6 separate regions of the Homo sapiens genome follow, and all the other regions are reported to be linked to region 4. The links are microRNA targets in miRTarBase. Many come from high-throughput screens and were not tested one by one. Region 4 holds a microRNA gene; each other region holds the end of a gene's coding sequence.

Region 1 (4,965 bases), not on the chromosome of region 4:
CCACTGCACTCCAGCCTGGGCGACAGAGCAAGACTCCGTCTCAAAAAAAAAAAAAAAAGTCTGGAGGCCAGAGGGGTAAAGTTCTTTGCTCAACATCCTGCAGACCCAAATCCAGGAATTCTGATTTCATATTCTGTGCTCTTTCCCATTGGAGACAAGAGCCATTAACAATATAAAGAAATTCTCAGAGTGCCTCTATTTCCTGGAGCATTAGAAAGTAGAAAATAAATAAAGGTGGGGAAAGAGTAAAAAAGAAGGAAGTAGGAAAGAAATGGAAGAGGGAGAAAGAAAAACAAAGAGGCCATGGGGGTGATAAGGCAAGCACAACATTTATAACACACTAAGTATCTAGCTCAGTGCTATGCATAAGATATGTCCAATATGTGTATCTGAATGGTTTTTAAAATGTATTAATTCATATCTAATAACTATATATTTTAGTTATACAGTAATTTCTCAAACATACAAATGCTTGTAGCTTTCTTCCTTGGACCCAGTATGTAGATTTGGCCATGGGTCTCTCTCAGTTTCCTTACAGATTCTAGCATATGGATTCAGTGCCTGGAACCTGCACATGTTGTGGAGTGGAACATCATTTTATTTTCCATTCTCATAACCCTCAGTGGGCTTCAAGTGATCATCTGCCTCATCAGAGTAGTCATGCAACTATCCAAGATACTGTGTGGAAGCTATTCAGTGATCTTCCAGGTAACAGATTCTCATGGGCACCTGTAGCTCATCCATATTTCCCCCACTTCCCAGGATTCAATGAGGCTTTTTGAAAAGACTCTAGAATTCCATCACTTTCCCCCCATTTCTATTGCCCTCATCTTTATTCAAGCTCTAATATCTCAATTTTTTCTGATATCCCAATGTGTCTTGGCTTATCTATAAGGGTTGAATCAACTCAGTAATTGTAAAATCTGCATTTCTTGTTGTATGGTAAGGCTTCATAAGTGTTTTGAATGAGCAAAGTTTTAGTGTTCTACATAGAGATAACTCAAAGCATGATGAAATTTTACCATTTATCAAGAATTTCCCTGTTCATAAGTTAAGCAAAGGCTCAGAACCTTATCTCATTGAAATAACTTCTCTTCTGAATGCTGCTACATTCAACTAATGAACCTTTATCTCGAGTGCATAGGAGTGCTTTTGAAGAAGAAGGGAAATATGTATTTATCCCATTGAAACTACTTCTACTTCGTCTGCTAAAATACTAATGTTAATTTAGTTATGGTTGAAACTGCTATCAAGAAGTCCAGAGTGAAGAAAAATTATGAATTTAGATGGCTTGTATTTTGTTTAACAACAGAATGTGTAATACCTTTCCTAGCAATTTCTAAGAGATGTTTTTTCTGTTCTATCATATTTTGAATATGAAATATAAGTTTAAGTTGCTATCTGGATTACGGATTACTAATCAAGCCAAGTTTATAACTTTAATCACTTTGTTTTTCCTTTTTTCCTATAGCCTGGAATCATTTGAATAAGGACAAAATGTTTTCCATTATCAAGACATGGCCATCTATCTAAATATTATATCAACTGTGTAGACTTGAGGGCAATATTGAAATGATGGTGCTTTCTGCATTTGGTGTTTATTTGTAAAAAATTTGCAGTCCTCACTGCACATGCAAGTATACCACCCTTCCATTTAGTATGTTTTTTAAGTAATATGCATCAGAAACTTCAGAAATACTTCTGCCCTTTGATCAAACAAATCCATTTCCAAGAATCTGTACTAGGGAAGTAAATAAGAATATGAGAGAAACCTTTATGCAAATATGTATATTGCAACATTATTTAATATTCTGGAAAATTGGAAACACCCCAAAATTCTAAACTCAGAGGAAGGATTAAGTAAAGAGTGGTACATACTGTAAATGTTTTCTGATATTAAAAAAAAAATTAAATAAAAAATAAAGAGTACTACATGGTTGTAAAATTACAGTCATTACAAATGATGTTTTTAAAATTATGAATAATGCTACATCAAAAAGCAGGTTACAAATTCATGTTTACTATATAACTATTTAAAGCAAATGAAACACTAATAGTCAAAGTTTAGGATGAAAACTAAATCTAAAAGGAAATATAACAAAATGCCAATTATGCTTGGTTTGGGGCATTGATGACCCTTCTTCCCACTTTTCTATATTTTCCAAGATTTCTTTATTGAATATGTTTTACTATAAATATTTTCTAAACTCATATTTTCACTATTAAAATTTTTTTATTTTTCCAAACTTTAAGGCATATGCTCTTTCCACATTCCTCAACATTATTTGCAAACATCATGAAATGACACTTCCATCAACATTCAATGAGGAAAGTAGTGATATAGATGAGCCAAAAAGAGTTTTATATAAACTTATACAATCTAAACTCTTGCTCTTCCTTTCTGACTCCTGAGGGTGAGTGTGATGGACTAGAAGAGGTAGCCTTAAAATAAGTGAGCAGCTAGGGAACATGCTCAATGGGCAAGAGAAAATGACCACTGACCAGTCAATACCTGTGTCAGGGGGAGTTACCAGTACCTATATTTATTTTTAAAGTAATTAAAAAGTAGAACACTTACAAATTTTCCACCTATACATGCCATGTCTTCCTCGGGGACAGTAGCCACATCTTATATATTTCCCACCATGCATAGGACCCAGCACACAGTGAAGCCAGTAGGCACTCAGTGTTGAATGCTCATACCAGGTTTTCTGCTTCCTGTAGTTACCCTGCTGAGCACTGCTTCCATCACAGGTGCACTGGGCCTCAACACTTCTGCCATTTCCCCATTTGTCTCCTCCATGGACACTGTCAACAATGGTCTGTCAACACCTGCTCTGTGCCAAAGCCAGGGAGTAGGCTGGGGGGATACGGAAGAGAATATCTTTCTCCTTGATGCCTGCTGTGCCAACAGCCCCCTTTAAGCCTTGTTCACAGCCTTTGCTGAAACAAGCATCTTGAAAGCAAGCCATGTTATACACCGCATGACCTTCATGCTCTGGGCCCAGCTGACTGAACTGGGGCAGGCCCCAGAGTCATGGGCAGCCTATTGTCTTGCTAATGGCCTCTGACTTAGCCTGGAGTAAAACACTGTCCAAACAAGACTGGTGGTTATTCAAGCATAAGAATTTGAACTAGGAAGCCAAGAATGAAGCAACCGGACCATTACCATCAAAAAATGATTAAAGGATGAAGAAGGAAGCCAACATTCAGAGAGTATCTGGTTCATGTTAATAATGGTATCATATTAAAAGGAAGATACATGAACTTCTACTCCAAAAGCTCCTAAAACTGCCTTTGCCCACAATGAACAGTGTACCCTAGGCCTGGTTTCTGTTCTTGGATTCCTAGATAGTCTTTCTTCTTTGTCACTGTGCTGATCATTTCAGTAAACCCCCGACTAAATCAGTGCAGCTCTGTTTATTGCAACTAAAACGATCCAAATGAAGTCTCCCTTTTCTAGATGTTGGGTTGGAGGGATGCTAAGACAAAGATGCTTAGGCTCCAGAGTTTTACAGAGCTTCATTCAATAACACTCTACTTTCCAAAGAACTTAAATATGAGGTCTGAAGGACTTGGACCAAGAGGCAAACCCAAGCTACAGACACCATGTTGTACTCAGAGTGACCTCTCCCCTCTGACAGCCCAGGATTTCTCTATCAAGTCCATAAGCTAGTCATATCTAGGACCATCTTGTTAAAAATTCTCTCAAAGTCTCCTCAGCCCTCTTGTAAACAGACTTCTGGAAGGTCCACTTCATCAGTTTGTTATATACTTTCAGACTGTCTATCTCTTGTTTAGATTCAGCATGGCACCGTACGTTGAATGGACTGTTAATAGATGTTTGCTGAATGACTCCACCACAGCATTGGACACATCAGGGGTACAGCCAAATGCAGCATGATACCTCTATCAGGAAAATTAAATTTTAACACAGCCACCAAATATTCTATATTTGAAGAGTATATGCTAATCATGCAATTTTAAGTAAAAAAAAGCTGAATACAAAAAAAGCTGAATATGTGTTTTATATCCTCGTGAATTCAAAGTAAAAAGGAAAAAAAACTCAAAAACCAAATATATGTATGCAGTTTGAGCCCAAATTTTTAATTAAGTAACCATATAATTACATGTAGACATGTATAAACCTTGAGATATGTAAAGACCAGAAAAATATTTAAAAGTTAATAGTTACATCATCTGTGGTCACAACACCCTGAAAATGCCTAATATTGGAAACTTAAGCAGGATTGATCCAGGTTATTACTTGGATGGGAGACCAGATGCTATAGGCTGAAAAAAGAAAGCATAAGTACGCACAAGTTAATACTTAATAATTATCTCCTAATGATAGGACTATAAGTTCTATCTCTTTTCTTTACATTGTTCAGTATTTTCAAATTTCCCTTTGAAAATGTGTTATGTACTTGAATTATTAGAAAAAATAAATGTCATTTAAAAAGCAATGGTCCTCTAATTCTTTCTGTAAAATTCATTTAAGGAGTTAAAATAGAAAATATATATAGGTATGTATATGACTGGCCTTCTCTTACCCTTTCCAGAAATAATCTTTCCACTTTTTAATTCTGAGAGTATTATGAGCTAATCCTGATTGAGAATGATTTATGTTTTATGCATTTCTGCACTTATTATTTATCTACTGTTCTCCTTGCTTCTATCTCATTGTTATTTTCCTAACTTCTTAAATAGAATACCTAGCTTATTGATTTTCTAACTTTCTTTTTTTCTTAAAATAAGCACTTAAGACTAGACATTCTTTAATTACCACTTTGGCTGAATCTCACAAGTTTTAAAATGTTGCATTTTCCTTGTTTGGTTATAAATATTTTCTAGTTTTCTTTATGATTTATTTTTTGATCCATGAGATTTTTAATGTGCTTTAAAATTTCCAAGTATATGGCTGGGCGCAGTGGCTCATGCCTGTAATCCTAGCACTTTGGGAAG
Region 2 (4,965 bases), not on the chromosome of region 4:
AGGCATGAGCCACTGCACCTGGCCGCCCTGCATTCATTCATTCATTCATTCATTCATTCATCTATCTATTTAGAGACGGAGTCTTGCTCTGTCACCCAGGCTGGAGAGCAGTGGCTCAATTTTGGCTCACTGCAAACTCTGCCTAACGGGCTCAAGCGATTCTTCAACCTCTGCCTCTGGGGCTCAGGTGATTCTTCTGCCTTAGCTTCCCAAGTAGCTGGGACTATAGGCTCACACCACCATGCCTGGCTAATTTTTTTGTATTTTTAATAGAGACGAGGTTTCACCATGTTGGCCAGGCTGGTCTTGAACTCCTGACCTCAAGTGATCTGCCCACCTTGGCCTCCCAAAGTGCTGGGATTATAATCATAATAAATTATATATGTAAATACAAAATACATGCTAAATCTTAGCAATAAAATTGAATGGATTTTAAATTTTTGTTTTTCCAATAGTCTGCATTGACAGTGTATTACTAAATCAGATAAAATACTATATGAAAAAATGGTATTCTCTGGAATATACTTCACCTGAAAATCTCTTAATATGGAAAGGTTGCTGAAAATTTACTAAGTATTTGTACTCACATAACATTGTTTAGATGTCTTGGGAAATAGTTTTATTCCATAATTGTTAAAAGAGAGGAAACCCCAAATGGAAATATATTGAACATATTTTTGGCTAGGCAAAAGGTTGAGAGATGATCTTAATTTTCCTTTTCTTTACATTTTCATGAAGGCACGGAGTGTGAATGTGAAGACACAAGCTCTTTCTGGATACAGAGACCAATTTAGTTTGGAGATTACAGGTCCTATCATGCCTCATTCTCTGCATTCACTGACCATGCTGCTCAAATCTTCACAGAGTGGATCTTTCTCTGCAGTACTGTATCCACACGAGCCAACTGCTGTATTTAACATCTGCCTGCAAATGGACAAAGTACTTGATATGGTAAGTAGACACCTATGAGCAGACTGTTTTAGTTGTAGTTTCCTCAAACTAGCTGGAGGGAAATTGAGTCATTTATGCTGAGTCACTATTGTGTTTCAAGTAATTAAACTGTTACTTAATTATGAATTACTAGAGGAAGGAATAATGTCTGTAAGTTGTTTATGTGAGGTAGCTTTCATGAATTCAGTCCAAGTACAATTTTTTTTTTTTTTTGAGATGGAGTCTTGCTGTTGCCCGGGCTGGAGTGCAGCGGCGCGAGTCTCGGCTCACTGCAGCCTTAGCCTCCTGGGTTCAAACAGTTCTCCTGCCTCAGCCTCCCAAGTAGCTGAGATTACAGGCATGTGCCACCACATCTGGCTATTTTTTGTATCTTTATTAGAGACGGGGGTTTCACCATGTTGGCCAGGCTGGTCTTGAACTCCTGACTTCAGGTGATCTGCCCACCTTGGCCTCCCAAAATGTTGGGATTACAGGCTTGAGCCACGGCACCCGGCCTCAGTCCAAATAGTTTTAACAGTGACTGAAGAACTTCCCATTCCAAAAAGGGGCAGCTTTTTCATTTCCTCTTGCATCCAAAACTCAATAGTACCTGATTCCTTTATAGTTTAAGGAAACAATTCACTGTGGGTATTTAACCATATTTGCCTTTAATTTTGAACATACTTAAGGTTTTTAGAGTTAGAATTAAGACCTTTAAAATTGTCTCATGCATCTCAGTTGGCTAGACTTATAACCATTAATATTTTGGGATTTTGTCACTACAAAAATTCTTAGCATCAACTTCTATTAATAGGATGAATCACATTAATCAGCCATTTATTTGTCAGTCTCCATAGTAATTATTTAACTCTTCTGTGTTTAAAGACTAATGTGCTTTTTACTGACTTGTACACACATTTCCACAGGAGGTTGTTCATAAGGAGCTTACTAACTGTGGTTTGCACCCTAACACTCTGGAGCAACTTAGTCAAATACCGTTACTTGGGAAATCATCTTTACGGAATGTGGTGCTGAGAGACTACATTTATAATTGGAGATCCTGAACACCAAAGTAAGCCTAAAAGGAATCTTTGAGGAAAAAAGCCTTCTAGCAAGGAAATTCAAGATTCTTGAAGTTGAAGGAATATACTGAAATGTTTATAAACATAACTTTTACTACAGTAGCATCTAAGGTTTTAAATGTGTTTTACTATTTTCAGATTAGATTTTTAGATATAAAGATGAAAAACTCAGATAACTCAAATGAGATATCTATATCCCTACAACCTAATTGTATATTGAGCAGAAACTGAATTAATATGCTTCCTTGCAAATGGGAAATCACATAGCAGTTACCCCATGGCATTGTGACTAATGGCATCAGGGCAAAAATATGTTACTTTACGATTTACCTGTTAGCAGGTTCTTGTTTCATAAAGGTAGAAAATAAATACAGACAACATCTACTGAGCTAGTTGATTGGTGATGCTTCTACCTTAATATCTTTCCTACTGATTTATAATTCCTTTATTTTCACATATACTAAAACTTTTTAAATGCATGTTAATTCAGATAAAAAGGCATTTTGTATTCCACATAGAATAGTGTTAAGAATTGTGAAGTACACTGAGCTGTCACGGCAAAGTAGTATTTAATGTGCTTATAGGGGTGTGTGTGTGTGTGTGTGTGTGTGTGTGTGTGTGTGTGTGTGTGTGTGTGTGTGTGTGTGTGTGTGTGTGTGTGTGTGTGTGTGTGTGTGTGTGTGTAGGGGGGGACTGTATAATTCACATTTTTAAAATAAAAGTGCTTAAAAATCAAAAGCATTGGGTAAAGAAATAATAGTATCTAAGTATTTGTTCACTTTATAACCCAGAAAATAAAACACCACGTTTATTCCAGAGAAGTTTGTATTTGGGCCTTAAGCTTTTGAAAATAAAGTTTAGAGACATAGCATATGAATACCACTGTAATACACATGAAATATTCTATCAGACCCTAAAAATTAACATAAACTTTTAACTTTCTCATAGTCAACAAAATAGTGGCTGGTTGCCAATTTTATTAGATAAGTTGGTTACAGCATTTTAATTATCATTTTACGTCTATCTAGGTGTAGCTGAAATTCAAAATGCACATCAAAGTAAAACTATATCACAACTCAATGCCATACTAAATGTACTGGCCTCTGCAATAGAATTCTAGTCAGACTTCATTTTTTACTCCCTTCTTATGACCCAAGTGGCTTTAACAGGAATGCAGGACTTAGTGCTGATCATCACACAACATACCACTTTCTTTTTAGAACCTCTACAAAATTTTGAGGGGAGATGGTGGCATTAGCCCTGTGGAACAGATCTTGATCACCTCAATAACACTGGCCCATTATCTGTCCAGCAGAACCCATTGTGAAATAGTACAAGGTGCACAGCCCTTCACTGATTACAGGCAAGTGTTACAGTAGCCTAGCCATAAGGAAGGGGAGTTACATCATAGTACAAAATACAGTATAAAAGCGTTATTTAACATTCCACACTGAAGATTACTCTGATGCCTTCAAACAGTCGTTTGGATGTTAGCCACTTAAACAAATACATCACTAAGGTAAACAATATAAACATACCAAAACCCTGTATGGTTAAATACAATTTCCATGGTACAAAAATCAAAGCCTGGAGATGTTTTTACAGATTGCTTTTTACACAATGTCTTAAATTGCCAAATATTTACAACATTAAAGAGGAAATACATTGTGATGCAGAGTAAAATTCTGAAATGATTATTATAAAACCTCAATCTATCTACGTGAGGCACTCCTGAAGCAAGTGGCATTAGCCATGAGGTCCTTTGGTACAAGGCCCATTGCTTGAAGAACCACAGTAGCTGCTGTGGCTTTAGCATGCTTCTTATTAGGGCTGGCAAAGCTGGGCTGGTAAGCGCTTCCATTTATCAATACCTATTCAAGAAAAACATACAATTGGGTCTGGTAAGGGCTCCATTTCTCAATACCTATTCAAGAAAAACATACAATAAGAACAGCATCAAACTTTAATATCTATTAGCTTTGTATTTTTTCACTAAATGCTAGAAAAATAATTTACAAAAATATAAAACCCATACTATGTAAGTCAAATTATAATCTCAACCCGAAGAACCAAATCATTTGGGAAAGGGACTGCAAATTAGAGCAGGTCTCCAAATTGAGAAAAAGACTGACAAAAGTATTAAATTAATTCCCCACATTCAACTAGAAAATAACAATTGTATACTATATTTTACCCTTTTCCAATTTTTTAAAAAATAGGACATTGACAAGTCGTATTAAAGCACCCTTCAGTGTTTAAAAACCCCACCACTTAACTACAAATACAAACCCCCCACCCATGAACAGAATCTTAATCCTGTGATCATGTTTACCCCTCACCCTCTAAGTCATCACATTAATAAATATATATAATTAATGCAGAAATTCATATTTACCCTAAAGAGAAAATGTTTGCGATGATCAGGGCCACTATCATGGACCAATAGAAATTCAGGTGGTTGCCACCTTCTTTTATTACAGATCTCCATCAAAGCAGACACAGGATGTTTGCCTGCAGGGGGGAGAAATACCCAGTTTTAAATTATTTCCACCAACTTCTGCAACAAATAATGAATTCAAGGTGGGATTAGGGTAAGAGGAAATTCAAAAACGTGCTCTCACCTGACAGATCTTTCATTGCAGCAGAGAAGTTCCCAGACCTCTTTTGTGCTCTTTCTCCTACTGCAACAAGACCTTTAAAAAAAAATTGTTCACTAAATAAATTTCAAAGCACCACTTTAAAACAAAGATCCCTCTGTAGGAGTCTGAACCTCAAAATGTATGCCTTCAAATAAAATCAGCAGATTCCTAGTACACTCGATTTCTCTATCAATCTTCTCTTTCTTCTCTTTTACTGTTTTTCAGCATATAAATTTATATTTAATATTCATAGATCTTGGTATGAGAAATTGTAATAAATACCAAATGTAAACAGAAAACAAAAAGTTAAGTAT
Region 3 (4,965 bases), not on the chromosome of region 4:
ATGGGATTGCATTTGGACAAAAAACTACAAAAAAGTGCAATCTTTAGTCTCCAGGATGCAAGCTCTGGCACTAGGGGATGGGTCTTCCCTGGAGAATGCTGCCGCTGATAGTCTCTTCCAGAGGAGATCCTTTGAGAGGAGAGTCTGTTACATCAGTTTCTTTACTGTTACTCTATGGAGACTCAAGGATTTAGTGGTAAGTTGCTTTTTAAAAATAACTGGAATCTGGAGGCCAGTCAAACCTTTTTGGACAGATATCTCCTCGAAATACTTCTTTATTAAAGTATTTGAAGGAGATGACTTCTTAGACCTTTGGCTTGACATTCTGGGATTCCCAGACTATATTGTTCTTTCATAAGCAAATAATCTGTTATCTTTTAGATTCTTCAGAATAAATACATCTTTACTTTAAAATCCCTCGCTTGAATCATGTAATCTTTCAAAACCTAGTTTCTATCTTCCTAACAACAGGATAAAGTCAGAAATGCAAGTCAGAAAGCAAGCTCACAATCACATGACCACAAAGAGACAACAGTCAGAGACAGTTCATGAGATGGCTACCAATTATAATGAAAAACCAAGAGGAAGTTAAAAGGGGGCTTCAGAACTTTCACTCCACTAAAAAAGAATGTGCTGAAATCACTTCCAACTCAGTATACACAGACTTAACCAATGCTTGCTCTTAAAAAAACCCTTTTGAGCTTGAGTAACCACTGAGCTGCCCTTTGTTACCTTTATGGAAAATGAGTGCTTCACTCCAGCTGCTTTTACCCAGCCCAGGAACATCTGGGGGCAGTTTACACTCCCTGTTTATAATTAGAGTGAATTCAGGGCTATCTAATAAATATCTAAGTATTTGTGTAAGAGTTGTACAAAGTATGGGTAGGTTGAAAGGGTAACTGGCTGGAAAGAAAATTCAACTTGAGCTATCCTCCAAAACGAAACATAAATCTTCCCTCAGATTCCATACCATTCTGGAAGGCTGCCAAATCCTAGGTTTTTCACCATCATGTGCTTCTGCACTTCCTAATTTGGGCTGAGTCTGAAGAAGCTAGAAACCACGTGAGAAAACTGGGCTTCCCGGTATTTCCAGAGCAGTTTTACAGAACAAAAGGTTTGGGTAGGTCACTGGCTGGAAGGAGACTCTCCAACCTTGACTGTGACTATCTGGGCAGCCACGGGGGGAATTGTTCAGTTGGCCTCACGTTGCATTCCCCACTTAAAATACTGCTGGATAAAGGCTATCTACACTTTGGCAAAGTCAAAAGCTAAAGAAATTGCTCTGGATCCAGAATCTCAACAGGATCACCTAATATTCCCAAACCAACATCTAGGCCAGCAGCTGCCTTCTACTTTCCTTTTTCACTCCTGGTTTTTTTTTTTTTTTTTTTTTTTTTGAGACAAGATCTTGCTGTCACCCAGGATGGAGTGCAGTGGCATGATCATGGCTCACTGCAGCCTTGACCTCCCAGGCTCCCACCTCAGCCTCCCAAGTAGCTGGGACCACAGGCACGTGCCACCATGCCCAGCTAATTTTTATTTTGGTAGAGACAAGGTTTCACCATGTTGCCTAGGTAGGTTTCAAACTCCTGGACTCAAGTGATCCTCCTGCCTCGGCCTTCCACAGTGTTGGGATTACAGGAATAAGCCACTGTGCCCGGCCCTTTTTCTCTTCTGTAACAGAGTTTATTACTGCCTAGCTAGCAGGTTATTTGGCCCTCACATGTGTTGAGGCAAACTCTATACTATATTCTTACTCTCCAGAGTTCCAAAATCCTTTATTTTTAAAGAAAAATAAACAAACATACTTCATTCTGCCCAGTATATTCTCTTGATCTGTACAAGCTACGATTTTAATTCTCTTTGGAGAGGAGGCATCTGTTAAGTTCGAATGGGGGATATTTCCTCATAACGGTCATGGCTGAGAGGCCAGGACAATTATCACTTAACGAAGGTCCTTTGGTGCTCCCTGTGCATCAGCTTCATTCACTGGGGTCAGGTTCTTAAGGGGTCTCTTCCACCAGTGTGCTAGGGAAGGGCTGCCATCACCTCTGTTTAACACATAGCTACTTTCTTAAACACAATAAGCTTAAAAAGATGACTATGGATTTACAATGGAGGGCACTATAAGCCTCTCATACTTAAAACAGATCAATATAAAACAAGTAAACATGAAAACACCAAAACACAGCAGCAAAAAGATTTAGCAATCAATGTTTCTTTCTGCAAAATGCAAAATTAACTTATTTAGCAGTAGAGGACTAAAAAGGAAATCAGTTATACCAAGGGGAGACACGTGCCCTTGGTACTATGACCACTAGGACAGCATTCATATTACACCACAGTGACTGCTTTCAAAGCTCAAATGATTGTCAAGCCACTTCTCAAATGACAGATAATTTCTGTTGTTCTTTTTTATACAAAATGTTAAGACAACAGGCTTGAATATACAGCCTAAGCACCAATTATGATAAATGCATATTGGTAAAATGTGACTTCTGGCTTTAAAAGACATTATTGACCTCCCTGGGGCTAAAGATTGCACCCATGTGAGTAATACACTGCTAAAGAATAATTCATTTTTTAAGATCTATAGAGGTTCTCCACTAGGCACAATTCATTGCTGAAGTTGGATCATGCAACAGTTTTACAAGAGAAGTAGGAAAACATACGTATACTGAATATAGTGCATATCACCATGAAGACTTTCAGCATGTAAGATTAAGACAGGACAGTGCTTTAAAACACTTGCATGGATTTGGGTTTGCCTATTCAAATGAAAGGGAATTCATTGAGATTTATATGGAAAAATTCCATGTTGGGGTTAATGGCCCACCACTCTGAACTGAGTCCAGTAAGAGCTTGAGGAATTTGGCTTTGTTAGTACAGACCTTCTCCTTGCACTCCTCTTCTCAGTATTCAACAAGCTGTCTTTGTTTAAAAATATGCAAAATGCACTGATTTTTGGAGTGGTTCATGTGACTTTTACTGCTCATTTTGTTAAAAATTCTGTCTTAAGTTAGAAGGTATTTTTTGCTTTCTTTTCAACATCTGAAGAACAATGCATCACACTTGGGAAAAAAACATTTCTTCACCTTATAATTGGTAATGTGCTACAATTACCTTTTAATTAAGATCTGAGCCTTTTACAAGTAGATTTTCTTCACATACTTAAAATAGATCGAAACTCTGTCTCAAAAAAAAAAAAAAAGATAATGAAGACTAAATGTTGATTCTGTATTAACAAATGGAGGCAGAGGAGAGTAAATGACTCTAGGGCAGACTTGCCAAACCCTAGCTTGGAGGGAGTCCCATATTGCCGTTCATGCAGAAAGCAGACACTATCATTAGTCTGAGGACTAACCCTAAAGGGGCCACACCCATTAAAGCTGAGGAGTGTCCAAATACCAGGGCAACAAAACGTCATGGCAAATAGTCTTCTCCAGATATGAAAACCCAAGACTGTGGTCTTCACATCTTTAATCCCCCAAATTCTTAAGTTGGTGTTCTGAGTCAGGACTCTATTTCAAAATAGGGTCTCACATCCAAGGAAATATGTCCTTCTGTAGAGCAGTTCTTACTTGACTATGCTTCAGGGAAAAGAGCAGCAGCATCTATAAACATACATGTATGTGTGTGAGAGTGTGTGTAATTTAAAAGGGGATCCAGAGCCCCTTCTTGATTATAAATTGGAAGTAACAATAGGCCAAACTGTCTCCTTAAATAAAACCACTGATACTAAAAAATTAAAAGATTAAACAGATCACAAAAAAATCAGACAGGTGGTGGAGAAGACCCCAAAGAGGAGTTACAAATTTAACACATTTGGGAAAGTAAAGATGACTTTAAAACAAACTAAAGATAAATCACAAACCCAAACTCAGCAGCCTAAGGGAACCTTCATAGGGGGAAACTAGGAGGCTCCAGCACTGTCAGGTCACACTCCTTTCTAGACTATGCAACCCTCTAGGGTTTCTTCCAGGGCTGTTGCATTGGCAGCAAAGCGGGACAGGCAGCAGTAGGCATGTGCTTTTTTTAAGTTTTTTTTTTTCTCTGCAAAGGGGCAATTATTCCTGGATAAGGCAAGATAATTGTGGTCACAAGAGAAGCAGCCAAATGCAGATCTGTTGAGCTAACAGGGGGAGTGTCTCAGTCAGTCTTTCCCAGCTTTGCAATCAGCTCATCACAGATTTTTGTCAGTTCTTCAATTTCTTGGTTCTGAAAGACAAATGACATAATTATGCAGGCCACTTTGTATTCTGAAATAAAGGCAAATAGAGTTAACTAGTCCCAAGTCTGGATCTACCCTACCCTAGACATCCTAATTCAGTGATTTTTAACTTTTCTACATCAGAGATGCTTTAAAGAAAAAAAGGCTACACACCTCAAAAAATGTACTCATAAAATCATGCTTAAATTGAGTAAAGGGTGAGGACAGTCACCAGCCCTCTGAAACTTGTCCATGAATCTCTTAGTTCCCCAATTTTCTTGTTATCAGAGGAATTATCTGGGGTACTTGTCAAAAACATAAGTATCTGGGTCTCACTCAATCCATTAGCATATCTAGGGATGCTGGAGTCTGAATCTCCCAGGGAGCACCGTTCTAGGGGCTAACAGACCCTGTGATAAAAACTCCTGCTCTTGATGAATGGATGGCACAGGTATGAGTACATAATTGGAAATGCAGTAAAGAAAATACACCGGAGACATATAAAAACGGAAAGCTAAAAATTGCTTAGTGAGAAACAGGGATTGTTGCTAGTCCTGGTTTTCATTTATCTATAGCAGTTTCTCAAAGCAGCCCTGCTGATGTTTTAGGATGGGTAAATGTGTTGTCAGAGGCTGTCCTGTGCATTGTAGGATGTTTAACAGCATCCCTGGCTTCCTGCACTAGATACCAGCAGCATCTCCCAGTGGTGACAACCAAACAAATATATCTCCAGACATTACCTAACACCTAACATC
Region 4 (4,965 bases):
CTAGCGACACGTGAGGCTGAGGCAAGAGAATCGCTTGAACCCGGGAGGCAGTGGTTGCAGTGAGCTGAGATCACACCATTGCACTCCAGCCTGGGTGACAGAGCGAGACTCTGTCTCAAAAAAAAATAATAATAATAAAATAAATAAATAAATAAATAAATAAATAAAAGGTGTTGAGGACTGGAAGAACATGCATCGCTCACTATGGCAACAAGAAGAGCTGCTGTGCATTCCACCTGTTACGAGGGAGCCCCTTCTAGGGTCCTCAAGATTTTTGTGAAAACAACTGGTTTTGTTGCATGCTACATTTATCACTGTGACTGAGATTCATCTTGTCTACAACAGTTTCTTATATTAGCCACAGCTAATATAAGACACATTTGACATCTTAGCAAGTAACTGGCATTTAGATGCAAGGTTTAAGCCCATTGGAATGGTACCTTGGAATCGTTACCCAAAGAAAATAGGATAAACATGGCAGCTACAGTCAAAGAACTCACTGGGGTTGGCATTAGTGGGTGAGGGTTGAATCAACTACACCCTTCCTGCAGAGAAAGCAGGTCTATTCCGAGAAATGATGGCAAGATGTTGGGGAAAAACAAATTTCAGTGTTACGGACAAGCAGATTACACTAAAAAGACACGAGTGAACAGGAACAAAAAGAAATTGTATCAATACGGACACCCACTGGGGATTACAGAATAGACTGGATGGACTTGGAGGATTACCCACTCTCTTAATGAAGGAACCATGGTTTGGATTGATTATACTAAATTGATGGGAGGCCATTGTATGACATGACCAACCCAAATGAAATCTGTGGGACCAGGTGCTATGTAATCTGTTTTTAAAGAAATGGGATCTTGCTATGTTGGCCCAGGCTGGAGTGCAGTGGCTATTCAAAGGTGGGATCTGTGCACGGTATAGCCTTAAAATCAAAGCACCCTCCCGCCCCGGCCCCTGCAGTAACTGGGACTGTGTGCCCCATGATGCCTGGCCAAGTCAACTATCTTTGAAATGGGTCATCAGGACAAGGTGGCTCACACCTGTAGGATCGCTTGAGCTCAGGAGTTGAGACCGTCCTGAGCAACAGAGACCCCATCTCTACCAAAAATTAAAAGCTGAACCAAGTGTTGTGTCACGCCCCATGTAATCCCAACTACTTGGGAGGCTGACTCAGGAAGACCACTTGAGGCCGGACACAGTGGCTCACGCCTGTAATACCAGCACTTTGGGAAGCCAGGGAGGCAAATCACTTGAAGTCAGGAGTTGAGAACAGCCCAGCAAACATGGTGTAACCCCATCTCTGCTAAAAATACAAAAATTAGCATGACATGGTGGTGGGCGCCTGTAATCCCAGCTACATGGGAGGCTGAGGTGGCAGAACTGCTGGAACCTGGGAGATGGAGGTTGCAGTGAGTGGAGATTGTCCTACTGCACTCCAGCCTGGGTCACAGAGCCAGATTCCATCTCTAAATGAATGAATGAATAAATAAATAAATAAATAAATAAATAAATAAATAAATAAATAGAGGGTCTCTTGGGCCCAGGAGAGCTAGGTTGGAACTGCCACTGCACTCCAGCCTGGGCAACAGAGACCCTGTCTTGGAGAAAAACAAAATCAGAACCCCAACATCATCCGAGTCTGATGATGAGCGTGCTCTGCAAATGTATTACCAAGATCAGCATCAACTTCAACGCTGCTTTACTCAAACCGAAACAGTCCAAAGGGAAGCACTTTCTTTTCTCTCAGACAACAGAAAGTACTTCCCTCTGGAGGGTCACAGCCTGAGATCTTCTTGCTCCAGCACTCTGGGTTTATTGTTGGAATTTTCCTTGACCAGGTTTAAATGGACACAAAAATAAAGATGCATTTTTCCTGGCCCTGTTTGCATGTTTTCTGGAATCCAGAATATAAACCCCCTAAAAGGACCATCTCCAGTTCCTTCTTTCAAAGGCTCAGCAGGTTAGCCTTGTTCATCAAGGGGCAATCCTCCTGAGTTTTGCCCCCAAAGAGAAAAAGCAATGCCTACTACTCATACCTTATCTTTAACCAAGAGAATCGAACTGAATTTCTAGAGAACAGCAATGGATTTTGAGCCAAGTGTTCACTTGAGTTCCAGTATAGGCACATGTAGTACCCATGGGGGCATCCAAAATGGAATCTAAGATGTTGAAGAATGTACATTGTCGCACACACAAACATCCTCCAGGAGAGACCACAGGCTACGCTGTAAAAGCTCCTCAATAAAAAAATACACAAGTACCTGTTGGGTGCGGTGGCTCACATCTCTAACCCCAGCACTTCAGGACGCCGAAGTGAGAGGATCACTTGAGCTCAAGAGTTCCAGACAAGCCTGGGCAACATGGTGAAGCTTCATCTGTACAAAAAATACAAAAGTGAGCCAGGTGTGGTGGTGCATACCTGTAGACACTAATTCAGGAGGCTGCGGTGGCAGGTGGAGGTTGCAGTGAGCCAACATTGCACCACTGCACTCCAGCCTCGGTGATATAGTCAGGCTGTGTCTTGTAAAAACTAGAAACACATACACACACACACACACACACACACACACACACAAAGACACACACTCAAAGTGATAGTCTCCTGCCTCACCCTCCGGAGTAGCTGAGACTACAGGCGTGCGCCACCAGCCCTGGCTAATTTTTTGTATTTTTAGCAGAGACATGGTTTCACCATGTTGGCCAGTCTGGTCTCGCCCTCCTGATCTCAGGTTATCCACCCGCCTCGGCCTCCCAAACTGCTGGGATTACAGGCGTGATCCACCGCACCTGGCCATACATCATATATTTTTGAGACCCTGTCTCAAAAGAAAGAAAGTTCCATATACTGTATGCTCACAGAAAGAATAATTCCTACACATAAGTCCTTGCTTTGGCAGCTCACACCCCCGTCTCTAAAATACAAAACCTAAATCAAGTGTGCGTTGATAACGTGGTCATACACCCTGTATTTCAGCTTCATTTACCCAATAAAAACTCAAAGCCCATGCACTCCACCTCTGTGCTCTTGCGAAGCAATGCACATCCCATCTGCAAGGGACACTGAGGTTCCCTTCAACTCTACCTCAAGTCAAGTCAAGGGAGGTTCTGTAAACCAGTGCAGGCATAACTTCCACGGAGTGAAAGGTGTTGAGGGCTGGACGAACAGGCATCACTCACTATGGCAACAAGAGCGGATGCGCATCCCACCTGTTACTAGGGAGGCCCTTCTAGGGTCCTCAAGGTTTTTGTGAAAGTATCTGTGGTTTTGTCCCATGTGACATTTATCACTGCAACTGAGATTCATCTTGTCTATAATAGCTTGTTTCTCATATTAGCCACAGCCAACATTTCACAGCTTACCAAGAAATTTGCATTTAAATGTGAGGTTTTGCAGGTTGGAATGGTACACTGGAAAAATTACCTGCAGAAAACAGGATAAACAGTGCAGCTGCAGTCACAGCACTCACTACGGTTGGCATGAGTGGGTGAGGGTTGAATCAACTACACCCTTCCTGCAGAAAAAGGTCTATTCCGAGAAATAAGTGGAAGCTGTTAAGCAAGAAAAATTTTCGATGTCAGGGACGAGCAGATTAAATTAAAAAGACAGGAATGGGCCGGGCACGGTGGCTTATATCTATAATCCCCAGCACTGTGGGAGGCCAAGGAGGCAGATCACTTGAGGTCAGGAGTTGAGACCAGCCCCGCAAACATGGTGAAACCCCGTCTGTGCCAAAAGTACAAAAACTGGCAGGTCATAGTGGTGAGCATTTGTAATCCCAGCTACTAGTGACACGGAGGTGGGAGAATTTCTGGAACCTGGGAGGCAGAGGATGCAATGAGTGGAGATCATCCCACTCTACTCCAGCCTGGGTGACAGAGCCAGGCTCCATCTCAAAAATGAATACATAAATAAATAAAAAGAGGATCACTTGAGCCCAAGAGAGCTAGGTTGGAAGTGCCACCGCACTCCAGCCTGGGCAACGGAGACCCTGTCTTAGAAAAACACAAAACCAAAACATAACCCCGCTATCATCCAAGTCTGATGATAAGCATGCTCTGCAAATGTATTACCAAGATCAGCATCAACTTCAACACTGCTTTTCTCAAACCGTAACCCTCAAAAGGGAAGCGCTTTCTCTTCTTTCTGACAACAGAAAGCGCTTTCCTTTGTAGACTCATAGCTTGAGATCTTCTTGCTCCAGCACTCTGGGTTTCGTGTTGGAATTTTCTTTGACCAGGTTTAAATGGACAGAAAAATAAAGATGCATTTAGTGGCCCTGTTTGCATGTTTTCTGGAATCCAGAATAAAACGCCTGAAAAGGACCATCTCCAGTTCCTTGCTTCAAAGGCTCAGCAGGTTAGCCTTGTTCATCAAGGGACAATCCTCCCGAGTTTTGTTCTCAAACAGAAAAAGCAATGCCTACTAGACATACCTTATACTTAACCAAGAGAATTGGACTGGATTTCCAGAGAACAGCAAATGGATTCTGAGCCAAGTGTTCATTTGAGTTCCAGTGCGGAGACACACAGTCCCATTGGAAACATCCAAAATGTGATCTAAGATGTTGAACTATATACATTGTCGCACACACAAACATCCTCCAGGATAGACCACAGGCTAGGTGGTAAAAGCTCCTCAATAAAATTTGAACAGGAATACACAAGTACCAGTTGGGTGTGGTGGCTCATACCTCTAATCCCAGCACATCAGGAGGCCAAGGCAGGAGATTCACTTGAGCTCAGGAGCTCAAGACCAGCGTGTACAACACGGTGAAACCCTGTCTGTAAAAAAATACAAATGTAGGCCAGGTGTGGTGGTACATGCCTGTAGACACTAATTCAGGAGGCTGGGGTGGGAGGCGAAGGTTGCAGTGAGCCAAGACTGAAACACTGCACTCCAACCTGGGCGACTGAGCCAGATCTTGTTGCAAAAAAAAATTTAAAAGAACACACAAGCAA
Region 5 (4,965 bases), not on the chromosome of region 4:
CCTGGACTCTGTCCTGCTTCTAAAGACCTAGGGAGCACCCACTCTGTGCCTGAGGAGGCAGGTGGCACATCTACCCAGGTTGCATGGTTGGCTCTGGCCTATCATGTTTTAAATCTTTTTTTTTTTTTTTTTTGAAATGGAGTCTCACTCTGTTGCCCAGGCTGGAGTACAGTGGCGCAATCTTGGCTCACTGCAACCTCTGCCTCCTGGGTTCAAGCAATTCTCTGCCTCAGCCTCCCGAGTAGCTGGGATTACTGGCACTCGCAACCATACCCGGCTAATTTTTTGTATTTTTAGTAGAGACGGGGTTTCACCATATTGGCCAGGCTGGTCTTGAACTCCTGACCTCGTGATCCACCTGCCTTGGCCTCCCAAAGTGCTGGGATTACAGGCGTGAGCCACTGCGCCCGGCCCTATCACATTTTAATAACCAGGGATGGGACTGAACTTGAATTTTGACCTCAGAGCTCCTGCTTTCTAGCTCCTGCCCCATCATCACCATGCTTAGCAAACGTGTGAGTTTGAGAGGAAGATTTACAGCTCAGACCTAATTGCTGGCAAAGTTTAAGGAGAGGACAGGGAGCAGGCAGAAGTCTGAAAACCACGCCTGGGCCCAAGAATGTTTTCACAATGTGGCCTGGCTGCACAGGGAAGAACAGACAGCTTGAAGAAGTAGTGAGCTGCCCGTCTTTGAAGGTATTCAAGCAGTGGCTAGAGGGACACCTGTCTGTGGTCTTGCAGAATCCTGGCGTTGGGCAGTGACTGTACCACAGACCCTGAGGCCGCTCTGCTTTGCTTTCCTATGACATCAGACACCCTGATGCACGCCCACCTGTTAATGACCTTGCCCCATTTTCTCTTTCAGATTCTGCCCCCGTGGAGACTCCCAGAGGGAAGCCCCCACTCAACACCCGCTCCCAGGCTCCGCTTCTCCGATGGGTCCTTACACTCAGCTTTCTGGTGGCGACAGTTGCTGTAGGGCTTTATGCCATGTGAATGCAGGCATGCTGGCTCCCAGGGCCATGAACTTTGTCCGGTGGAAGGCCTTCTTTCTAGAGAGGGAATTCTCTTGGCTGGCTTCCTTACCGTGGGCACTGAAGGCTTTCAGGGCCTCCAGCCCTCTCACTGTGTCCCTCTCTCTGGAAAGGAGGAAGGAGCCTATGGCATCTTCCCCAACGAAAAGCACATCCAGGCAATGGCCTAAACTTCAGAGGGGGCGAAGGGATCAGCCCTGCCCTTCAGCATCCTCAGTTCCTGCAGCAGAGCCTGGAAGACACCCTAATGTGGCAGCTGTCTCAAACCTCCAAAAGCCCTGAGTTTCAAGTATCCTTGTTGACACGGCCATGACCACTTTCCCCGTGGGCCATGGCAATTTTTACACAAACCTGAAAAGATGTTGTGTCTTGTGTTTTTGTCTTATTTTTGTTGGAGCCACTCTGTTCCTGGCTCAGCCTCAAATGCAGTATTTTTGTTGTGTTCTGTTGTTTTTATAGCAGGGTTGGGGTGGTTTTTGAGCCATGCGTGGGTGGGGAGGGAGGTGTTTAACGGCACTGTGGCCTTGGTCTAACTTTTGTGTGAAATAATAAACAACATTGTCTGATAGTAGCTTGAAGTAGTTTTCATGGGCTTTGTTATTCTTGGGGAACTGACCTTTTCCTCCCTGGTTTCTTGCGTGCTCGGTAGGAGAAGTGGTGATAGGGGGTTGGCAGGAGCTGGTCTGTTTGAGAATACAGAAGGTGAGCTTTTCTTTTCTTTTTTTTTTTTTTTGAGATGGAGTCTCACTCTGTCACCCAGGCTGGAGTGCAGTGGCGTGATCTTGGTTCACTGCAAGCTCCACCTCCCAGGTTCAATCAATTCTCCTGCCTCAGCCTCCTGAGTAGCTGGGATTACAGAAGTTCATCACCATGCCCAGCTAATTTTTGTATTTTTAGTAGAGATGGGGTTTCCCCATGTTGGCCAGGCTGGTCTCGAACTCCCGACCTCAGCTGGTCCACCTGCCTCAGCTTCCCAAGGTGCTGGGATTACAGGCGTGAGCCACCGTGCCTGGCCCAGGAGGTGAGCTTTAAGTAGCTGGTGGGCGAATATTTGTGTTGAACCCTGCTTGATGCAATTCTCGACTTTATGGAAGATGGGGTTGCCCTGTTTGGTGGAAATGAGCAGATTCTGGGGCAAAATTTGTATTTTCTGTCCAGTGACTATTAGGGACTGGAGTGAAATTCTTAGGTTCAAATTCCTGCTACACCACTTTGAGGTTAGTCACTTAACCTCTCTGAGGCTCCATTTTATCACTGGTGACATGAATATAGTGATACCTAACTCACCTATGTGTCCTGAGAAGCAAACAAGATGCAAGTGAAATGCCAACGCCATACACAGTTAGCACCTATTATGCAAAGAAGGAGACCAGTGTTTTGTGATTCTTGTACTGTCGAGTCACCTCATCTATGTCATCCCTGTGTTGAGGGGGTGTTTCCACTATCTGAGGGTCAGGATGGATTTCACTGAGGTCTGTCCAGCTCTAAAACCCAAGCCCTTTCTATGGCCCTAAGTCAAGAAAATACTAAATATGTAGCCTCCCAATCTGGGAAAGTGAAAAACCTTTTGCTGAAAGTGTCCTGGGCAGAGCATGGGACAAGATTTTTTTTTTTTTTTTTTTTTTTTTTTTGAGACAGGGTCTGGCTTTGTCCTCCACACTGGAGTGCAGTGGTGTGATCTTGGCTCACTGCAACCTCCACCTCTTGGGCTTAAGCCATCCTCTGGCCTCAGCCTCCTGAGTAGCTGCGGCTACAAGTGCACACCACCATGCCCAGTTAATTTTTGTATTTTTTTTTTAGAGATGGGGTTTCGCTATGTTGCCCAGGCTGGTCTCAAACTCTTGAACTAAAGTGATCCTCCCACCTTGGCTTCACAAAGTGCTGGGATTACAGGCGTGAGTCACTGTGCCTGGCCAAGGTGTATTTTTTTTTTTTTTTTTTTTTTTGAGATGGAGTCTCATTCTGTTGCCCAGGCTGGAGTGCAGTGGTGCGATTTCAGCTCGCTGCATCCTCTGCTGCCCAGGTTCAAGCAATTCTCCTGCCTCAGCCTCCCAAGTAGCTGGGATTATAAGCACATGACACCGCACTCGGCTAATTTTTTTAGTTTTAGTAGAGACAGGGTTTTACCATGTTGGCCAGGCTGGTCTTGAACTCCTGACCTCGTGATCCACCTGCCTCGGCCTCCCAAAGTGCTGGGATTACAGGTGTGAGCCACTGTGCCCAGCCAAGGTGTTTCTTTATAGGACCAGTACCTAAGGACTGGAAGTCAGGAGACCTTTGTCACTAGTCTGACTATGCCACTTCAAGGCTCATTTTGTTCACTGGTAAAATGAGAACAATACACATACCTCTCACAGCTGGTGGGAGGATCCAGTGGTGTCCAAACACCAGTCTGTGCATGGTGGCATCAGAATTACTTGGAGATACTTAACCACAGAATCCAGGGCTCCACCTGGGATGGGGCTCTAGAATTTTTTTTTTTTTTTTTTTTTTTTTGAGACGGAGTCTTGCTCTGTCACCCAGGCTGGAGTGCAGTGGCGCGATCTTGACTCACTGGAAGCTCCGCCTCCCGGGTTCACGCTATTCTCCTGCCTCAGCCTCCTGAGTAGCTGGGACTATAGGCACCCACCACCATGCCCGGCTAATTTTTTGTATTTTTAGTGGAGACGGAGGTCACAGGTTTCACCGTGTTAGCCAGGATGGTCTCGATCTCCTGACCTCGTGATCCGCCCGCCTTGGACTCCCAAAGTGCTGGGATTACAGGCGCGAGCCACCGCACCCAGCCTAGAATCAGTATTTTTGAAAAGTACCTTAGGAGAGTCCAACGCGCACCCAGGTCCAGGAGCACGTATGGTCACGTATGCAAAGCATAGGCATTCAAATAGCAGCTGGAGCTGGGCACGGTGGCTCACGACTATAATCCCAACACTTTTGGGAGGCTGAGACAGGCGGATTTCTTGAGGCCAGGAGTTTGAGACCAGCCCGGCCAACACAGTGAAAACCTGCCTCTACTAAAACCACAAAATTAGCTGGAAGTGGTGGCGCATGCCTGTAATCCCAGCTACTCCGGGGGCTGAGGCAGGAGAATCACTTGAATCCGGGAGGCTGAGGTTGCAGTGAGCCGAGATCGCACCAATGCACTCCAGCCTTAGCAACAGAGCAAGACTCTGTCTCAAAAAAACAAAACAAAAACCCAATAGCAGCTGGGACTCTCCTGCCCTGGGCCCAGTTTCCTCATTTGTGAAAGGGGAATAGATATTCATTGTACTGACAAAGAAAGGAAGGAAGAGGGGAGGGGAGAGAGAGAAACTATCTTGAATTTTACTAATAGGAGAATGGCTGAATAATTTTTTCCTATCAATTGTCGAACAAAGCCAGACACTAGTTAAAGTGGTAAGGACGACCGGGCACGGTGGCTCATGCCTGTAATCCCAGCACTTTGGGAGGCCGAGGAGGGCAGATCATGAGGTCAGGAGTTTGAGACTGGCCTGACCAACATGGTGAAACTCTGTCTCTACTAAAAATACAAAAATTAACCGGGCATGGTGGCGCGTGCCTGTAATCCCAGCTACCAGGAGGCTGAGGCAGGAGAACTGCTTGAACTTGGGAAACGGAGGTTGCAGTGAGCTGAAATTATGCCACTGCACTCCAGCCTGGGTGATAAAGCGAGAATCCGTCTCAAAAAAAAAAAGTGGTAAGGACAGATTTTAATCAGTAATGATTATTGCAACAGGGAAGAGAGTTCAGTATGAACTGAACTCAGCTTTAATTTGTATAGAGGTATTTTAAAGGGAGGTTGACCAGCCTGGGCAATATGGTAAAACCCCATCTCTACAAATGAATAAATAAATTCGCCGGGCATGGTGGTGAGGTTGAGGTGGGAGGATTGCACGAGCCTGGGAGGTCAAGGCTGCAGTGAGCTGTGATTGCA
Region 6 (4,965 bases), not on the chromosome of region 4:
CCATGGATCTATCTATCTATTTTTTAAGCCTGCATCACTTCTTGAGATAATGAGGTTTCTACCTCCAAAGCCTGCTGGGTGAGCACCTTGCTCATTATACTGGTTCTGAATTTACCTCTTTGAAGTTTCTAGATGCACCACTTCCTGCTCACAGCCTGGAATTCGGTTAACAAGTCAGTGTCAACCTACCTTTCCCTTCATGATTTATAGACTTTTGGGAGTACCTTCTGGTAGCTTTTGTCTTCCCATAGGAAAGAGGCCCAATCCCAGTTTGTCCTCACAAAGCGGCCAGCTCCGTGATATCTCTTTTGCGGGCAGAGTTAAGATTGTACACAGATCCCCACAAGTACCACGATTTTTGCCTCAGGAAGGATAAAGCACATGTTTGTTTCTGCTTTCGTTTTCTTTTTTCTTTTTTTCACGAAGCCTTATGGAGAAGTATGTTTCTGCTTTCTTTCCTGAGGAAGCCTGGCTTCTGGGCCACGGGACTGATCCTGTCCACATCCTCTTTCCCTCCATTCTCCATCGTGTCTCTGCCCCCGTCTCACCCCACCCCGTGCCCCTCTCTGCCTCAGCTTCCCCTCTTCCCCTGCAGTGAGTTTCCTGCGCAGCGGCACTAAGCTCATCTTCCGCCGGAGGCCTAGGCAGAAGGAAGCTGGCCTGAGCCAATCACACGATGACCTCTCCAACGCAACGGCCACGCCCAGTGTCCGAAAGAAGGCCGGCAGCTTTTCTCGCCGCCTTATCAAGCGCTTTTCCTTCAAATCCAAACCCAAGGCCAATGGTAACCCCAGCCCCCAGCTCTGAGGACCCAGCTCTGAAAGGGCACGAGTTCTCTCAGCCCATTCCCCACCTCCCCTTCCATACCCCTTCCTGGATCTCCAGTGCCTGGGCCAGGAAAGCCCTCTGGGTTCCGGGAAGCCCCGTCCACCCTGGGCCATGGGGCCGGTTGGAAGGATACTTGGAACGGGAAGCACATGAGAGGTGGGCACCCGGTGCCGAGGACATGGACGAGGGACTGGTGGCTGGGAGGGAGAGGAGGGCCCTGTCCGGCATGTGTGGGTATTCCCCAGAAGCATTTGCCTCCTGCTGAGCCTGGTCCCTGAGCGGAGTCCCAGGGTGCTCAGCTCTTCAGCTGACCCTTCTTCCCTTATTTATTCTCTTTTCTATTTATATGTGTGGCTTAGGACCCTCCGTGAACAGATGATAGAGGGCATCTCTCCCAGGTGACCCTTCTTTTCTGTCCCAGGAGGGTGGGTAATTCCCTTTGGGATGGGGCTCCCACACCTCCCTCAGGTCCCCACTCAGACCAGCACCAGTGTCTGCCTCTGAGAATGTTGGCAGCTCACAGAGAGCAGGGCCGGCCCGGGATGGGGGGCAGGTACTCCCCACCTTCCTGCCTCCCCTCCTGCTCCTCATCCCTCCCTCCCCCTTTATTACCGTTTTTTGTACTTGATGCCTTCTCTGTGAGCAGTGGCTCTGTGGGAAGGAGGGAGCCGGGAGCCTGGTGGGAAGCCTTCCCCAGAGAGATGGCTTTAGGGGCTTTATTTAAAGACTGTGATGATGGAGCCACGCAAGGCTGCACCTCTGTGTGTTGGGAGACGATGATGATGTCCATTGCTGTGTGATGGCTTGGAATTTAATTTATTAAAGTCAAATTGGAGTTTATAAACTGGACAACTGGTTATCCTTTGAAAGGCAGTAGGCAGCCAGGCTGTGACATGGATGGTGTGGGAGGATGAGACAGGGGCCCGGATAATGAGGTTGGGTAGATGACACACATTGTGGATCTGCTAAGAAGTTCCTGCAGGGAAGAAGGGGTGTGCAGAGAAAGGATGGAAGAGACAGGAGGCTCTGGAGTATGAAATTGTAGCAAAAAACTCAATCAACTAGTACAGGTTAGTCTTCATTCCCCTTTCTGGAACAGGCTGCTCCTTCTAGGATGTAATGGAGATCAAAGCTTGGACCCTGTAACTAGACTGCCTGCCTGGGTTTGAGTCCCAGCTCTTCTAATTACTTGTGTGACCTTGGGCAAGTTATGTAACCTCTAAGTGCCTCAGTTTTCTCATCTGTAAAATGGGAACTTCAATCATCATGGCTATCATTTGGTTGTGGATGAGAAGTAAATGAAGTGCTGAGTGTTAACTGTTGCCTCAGAAGAAACTGGGAGGGGGAAGTCTTAGAAGTGTTTCAACATAATAAAAGCTCTCTCATTCTGAAATGTGGGCAAATTTCAGGGATTGATAGATCCTAGCAAACTGTGTCCCTGGTTCCCGTGCTTGAGATCTTATACAGGACTTGAACCAGGTAAGCTGCTACAGGATATTGGGCAGAATGCAGGACCAGGAAGCAAGAAAACTGAGTCTGCCACAGACAAACCAAGTGATCTTGAGCAGGCAACTTCTCCTTTGGGGACCTCAGTTTCCTCATATCTAAAATAAGGGTGACCTGGATAAACATTCAGGTCACTTCCAGCCTTGACATTCTATGACTACCTATATCTCAGGGTGTTTAGGGCACATGCCTTTGGGTAGATAGCATGTGGAAATTGTTACTATTCCCCATGCTCCTGTCCACACTACTCACCAAATATGAGATATCCGGGAAGAATGGAGGGTATAGATTTTTTTTTTCAATTAGATAATTTAGTTTTATATATTTGGGGGGACAAGTGCAGGTTTCTTACATGCATATATTGCATGCATAGAGGTGAAGTCTGGGCTTTTTTTAGTGTGCGCATCGCCCAAATAGTGAACATCATACCCAATAGGTAGTTTTTCAACCCTCACCCTCCTCCCACCTTCTCACCTTTCATAGTCTCCGATGTCTTTTATTCCACTCTATATGTCCATGTATACCCATTATTTAGCTCCCACTTATAAATGAGAATATGCCATATTTGACTTTGTTTCTGAGTTATTTCACCGAGGATAATGGCCTCCAGTTCCACCCATGTTGCTGGAAAACACATGATTTCATTCTTTTTTATGGCTGAGTAGTATTCCACTGTGTGTGTGTGTGTTGGGCGATGATAATGATGTCCATTGCTGTGTGACAGCTTGGAATTTAATTTATTAAAGTCAAGTTGGAGTTTATAAACTGCATTTTCTTTATCACTCACTACATTAACTACGTTTTCTTTATCCAATCCTCCATTGATGGACACATCGATTTGGTTGATTTTTATGTAGTGAAATGTTCAATTCTAAGTCATGAAAATTCAAAGAGATTTTTCAAGCTGTTTCCCCAGTCTAAGAAATGTAACTCTTAGTGGTTCACAGAGGAACAGTTTTTCTACCAGTATGACACGACAACCAAACACAGTGAACTTGTGATTGCACAAGAAACTTTTGTTGATGGGAGAACAGGTATTCAGAGTTCTACAGGACCTGGGGAATGAGTAGATGGTAACTGGAATCTGTATTGAGCTTCCAGTACTGAGCTGCCCAGAGTTCCATGGAATCACATATTTTAGTGAAGAAGAGCCTGATCACGTTTCAAAAATAGGGAATTTTTAAATGAATGAAAAAAATACGAAACATATTTTCATCAACTTAATCCATTTCACACTTTCAGAAGGGATCCACAGCTTTTAATGAGTATGAATTATGCTTTCAGTTTTTGTGGCAGCTTTTAAAGAACAAATCTCAGGATATGTCTGAATTACCCAGCCAAAATTGTGGCTTGTTTTCAAGAGAAGCAGATTGAGATAGAAGTAAACTATGCTAGACAGAATGACACTGCTTTAAATTTTGGAAACATATATATGGATCCCAGAGCAATCCTGAAATTTTTGCTCTGTAACCTATGTTTGAGTTTACACAGCTCTGTGAATGAACTTTTTCTTCATAAAATTGCTAAATAAAGCTAAAAGCTATTTTCAGTGGTGTAAATCTGAATTAAAATGAGGATGGCATTTCATGAAGTACTACTATATGCATTTTTGAATGAATAAAGTTGGTAAGATATATTTTGTTACTTTTGAATTACATTTTTTAAAACGCTTTTTTTTTTTTTTTGAGACAGAGTCTCTCTCTGTTGCCCGGGCTGGAGTGCAGTGGAGTGATCTTGGCTCACTGCAACCTCTGCCTCTCAGGTTCAAGCGATTTTCCTGCCTCAGCCTCCTGAGTAGCTGGCACTACAGGCACCCACCACCACACCTGGCTAATTTTTGTATTTTTTGTAGAGATGGGGTTTCGCCATGTTGGCCAGGCTGGTTTCGAATTCCTGACCTCATGATCCGCCCGCCTCGGCCTCCCAAAGTGCTGGGATTACAGGCATGAGCCACCGCGCCCTGCAAAACCCTATTTTAAAATAGGGACCAAGTTATAACTCACTGTTGTTAAAACCAAAATTTATGCACAAGTATGACTTTACTATCTTAATGGCATTTTAAATTTTATTTTATATATATTGAACATTTAATGTGTTTTCTGATTGTACAAATTATATAGGTTTATTTTTAGATTAGAAGATACAGAAAACTACAATGCAATAAAATATCAGTCTTAACCAACTTTATTAAGGTATATTATTTAACAAGTATGTCTTGAACCCTTACTGAGTTTCAGCCACTGGGCTAAGTGAGTGATGGGTTTTTTGTTTTATTTTGTTTTTTGTTTTGTTTTGAGACAGAGTCTTGCTCTGTTGCCCAGGCTGGTGTGCAGTGGTGCCATCTCAGCTCACTGCAACCTGTGCCTCCTGGGTTCAAGCGATTCTCCTGCCTCAGCCTCCCGAGTAGCTGAGATTATAGGCGCCCGCCACGATGCCCAGCTAGTTTTTGTATTTTTAGTAGAGACGGGGTTTCCCCATGTTGGCCAGGCTGGTCTTGAGCTCCTGACCTCATGTGATCCACTCGCCTCGGCCTCCCAAAGTGCTGGGATCACAGGCGTGAGCCACGACACCCGGCCCACTGATGGAGTTATAAAGGTGAAGAACTAGTCTAGTGAAGAATGCAGACTGAGA

Evidence for each region. Region 4 holds the annotated microRNA hsa-miR-520a-5p (CUCCAGAGGGAAGUACUUUCU, at 1,759-1,779, opposite strand). A microRNA usually pairs through its seed, bases 2 to 8, with sites in the 3' UTR of a target mRNA and lowers its output. Matches are read on the target gene's strand: a 7mer-m8 pairs with bases 2 to 8, a 7mer-A1 pairs with bases 2 to 7 and ends in A, and an 8mer does both.
Region 1: miRTarBase lists TM4SF18 as a target of hsa-miR-520a-5p. Seed matches in the 3' UTR shown: 7mer-A1 at 1,811-1,817 and 7mer-A1 at 3,742-3,748.
Region 2: miRTarBase lists SON as a target of hsa-miR-520a-5p. Seed matches in the 3' UTR shown: 8mer at 2,824-2,831.
Region 3: the mRNA of TACC1 is a reported target of hsa-miR-520a-5p. Seed matches in the 3' UTR shown: 7mer-m8 at 3,665-3,671, 7mer-m8 at 1,760-1,766, 8mer at 1,088-1,095 and 8mer at 116-123.
Region 5: miRTarBase lists HMOX1 as a target of hsa-miR-520a-5p. Seed matches in the 3' UTR shown: 8mer at 1,138-1,145.
Region 6: the mRNA of C2CD2L is a reported target of hsa-miR-520a-5p. Seed matches in the 3' UTR shown: 7mer-m8 at 1,853-1,859 and 7mer-A1 at 1,918-1,924.

The regions. Positions count from the first base shown.
Region 1 is chr3:149,317,999-149,322,963 of GRCh38, reverse strand. TM4SF18 (transmembrane 4 L six family member 18) reads left to right here. Exons shown (of 6, transcript NM_138786.4): 5 at 528-708; 6 at 1,472-4,466. The coding sequence ends at 1,486. The region is part of intron 1 of TM4SF18-AS1 (TM4SF18 antisense RNA 1); the gene reads right to left. Among named protein-coding and RNA genes, the nearest start is that of TM4SF18, 13 kb to the left of the region's middle.
Region 2 is chr21:33,575,336-33,580,300 of GRCh38, reverse strand. SON (SON DNA and RNA binding protein) reads right to left here. Exons shown (of 12, transcript NM_138927.4): 10 at 4,634-4,705; 11 at 4,408-4,523; 12 at 2,820-3,936. The coding sequence ends at 3,877. It overlaps DONSON (DNA replication fork stabilization factor DONSON), which reads left to right. Exons shown (of 10, transcript NM_017613.4): 9 at 739-951; 10 at 1,857-2,750. The coding sequence ends at 1,994. Among named protein-coding and RNA genes, the nearest start is that of DONSON, 11 kb to the left of the region's middle.
Region 3 is chr8:38,847,208-38,852,172 of GRCh38, reverse strand. TACC1 (transforming acidic coiled-coil containing protein 1) reads right to left here. Exons shown (of 13, transcript NM_006283.3): 13 at 1-4,218. The coding sequence ends at 4,150. Among named protein-coding and RNA genes, the nearest start is that of PLEKHA2, 52 kb to the left of the region's middle.
Region 4 is chr19:53,687,709-53,692,673 of GRCh38, reverse strand. It overlaps MIR520A (microRNA 520a), which reads right to left and starts at 1,793; the gene lies at 1,709-1,793. MIR1283-1 (microRNA 1283-1) reads right to left here and starts at 4,193; the gene lies at 4,107-4,193. All of the region lies in intron 2 of LOC107985342 (a long non-coding RNA gene), which reads right to left.
Region 5 is chr22:35,392,603-35,397,567 of GRCh38, forward strand. HMOX1 (heme oxygenase 1) reads left to right here. Exons shown (of 5, transcript NM_002133.3): 5 at 866-1,605. The coding sequence ends at 996. Among named protein-coding and RNA genes, the nearest start is that of MCM5, 5.1 kb to the right of the region's middle.
Region 6 is chr11:119,115,450-119,120,414 of GRCh38, forward strand. It overlaps C2CD2L (C2CD2 like), which reads left to right. Exons shown (of 14, transcript NM_001290474.2): 14 at 596-3,095. The coding sequence ends at 807. Among named protein-coding and RNA genes, the nearest start is that of HINFP, 3.6 kb to the right of the region's middle.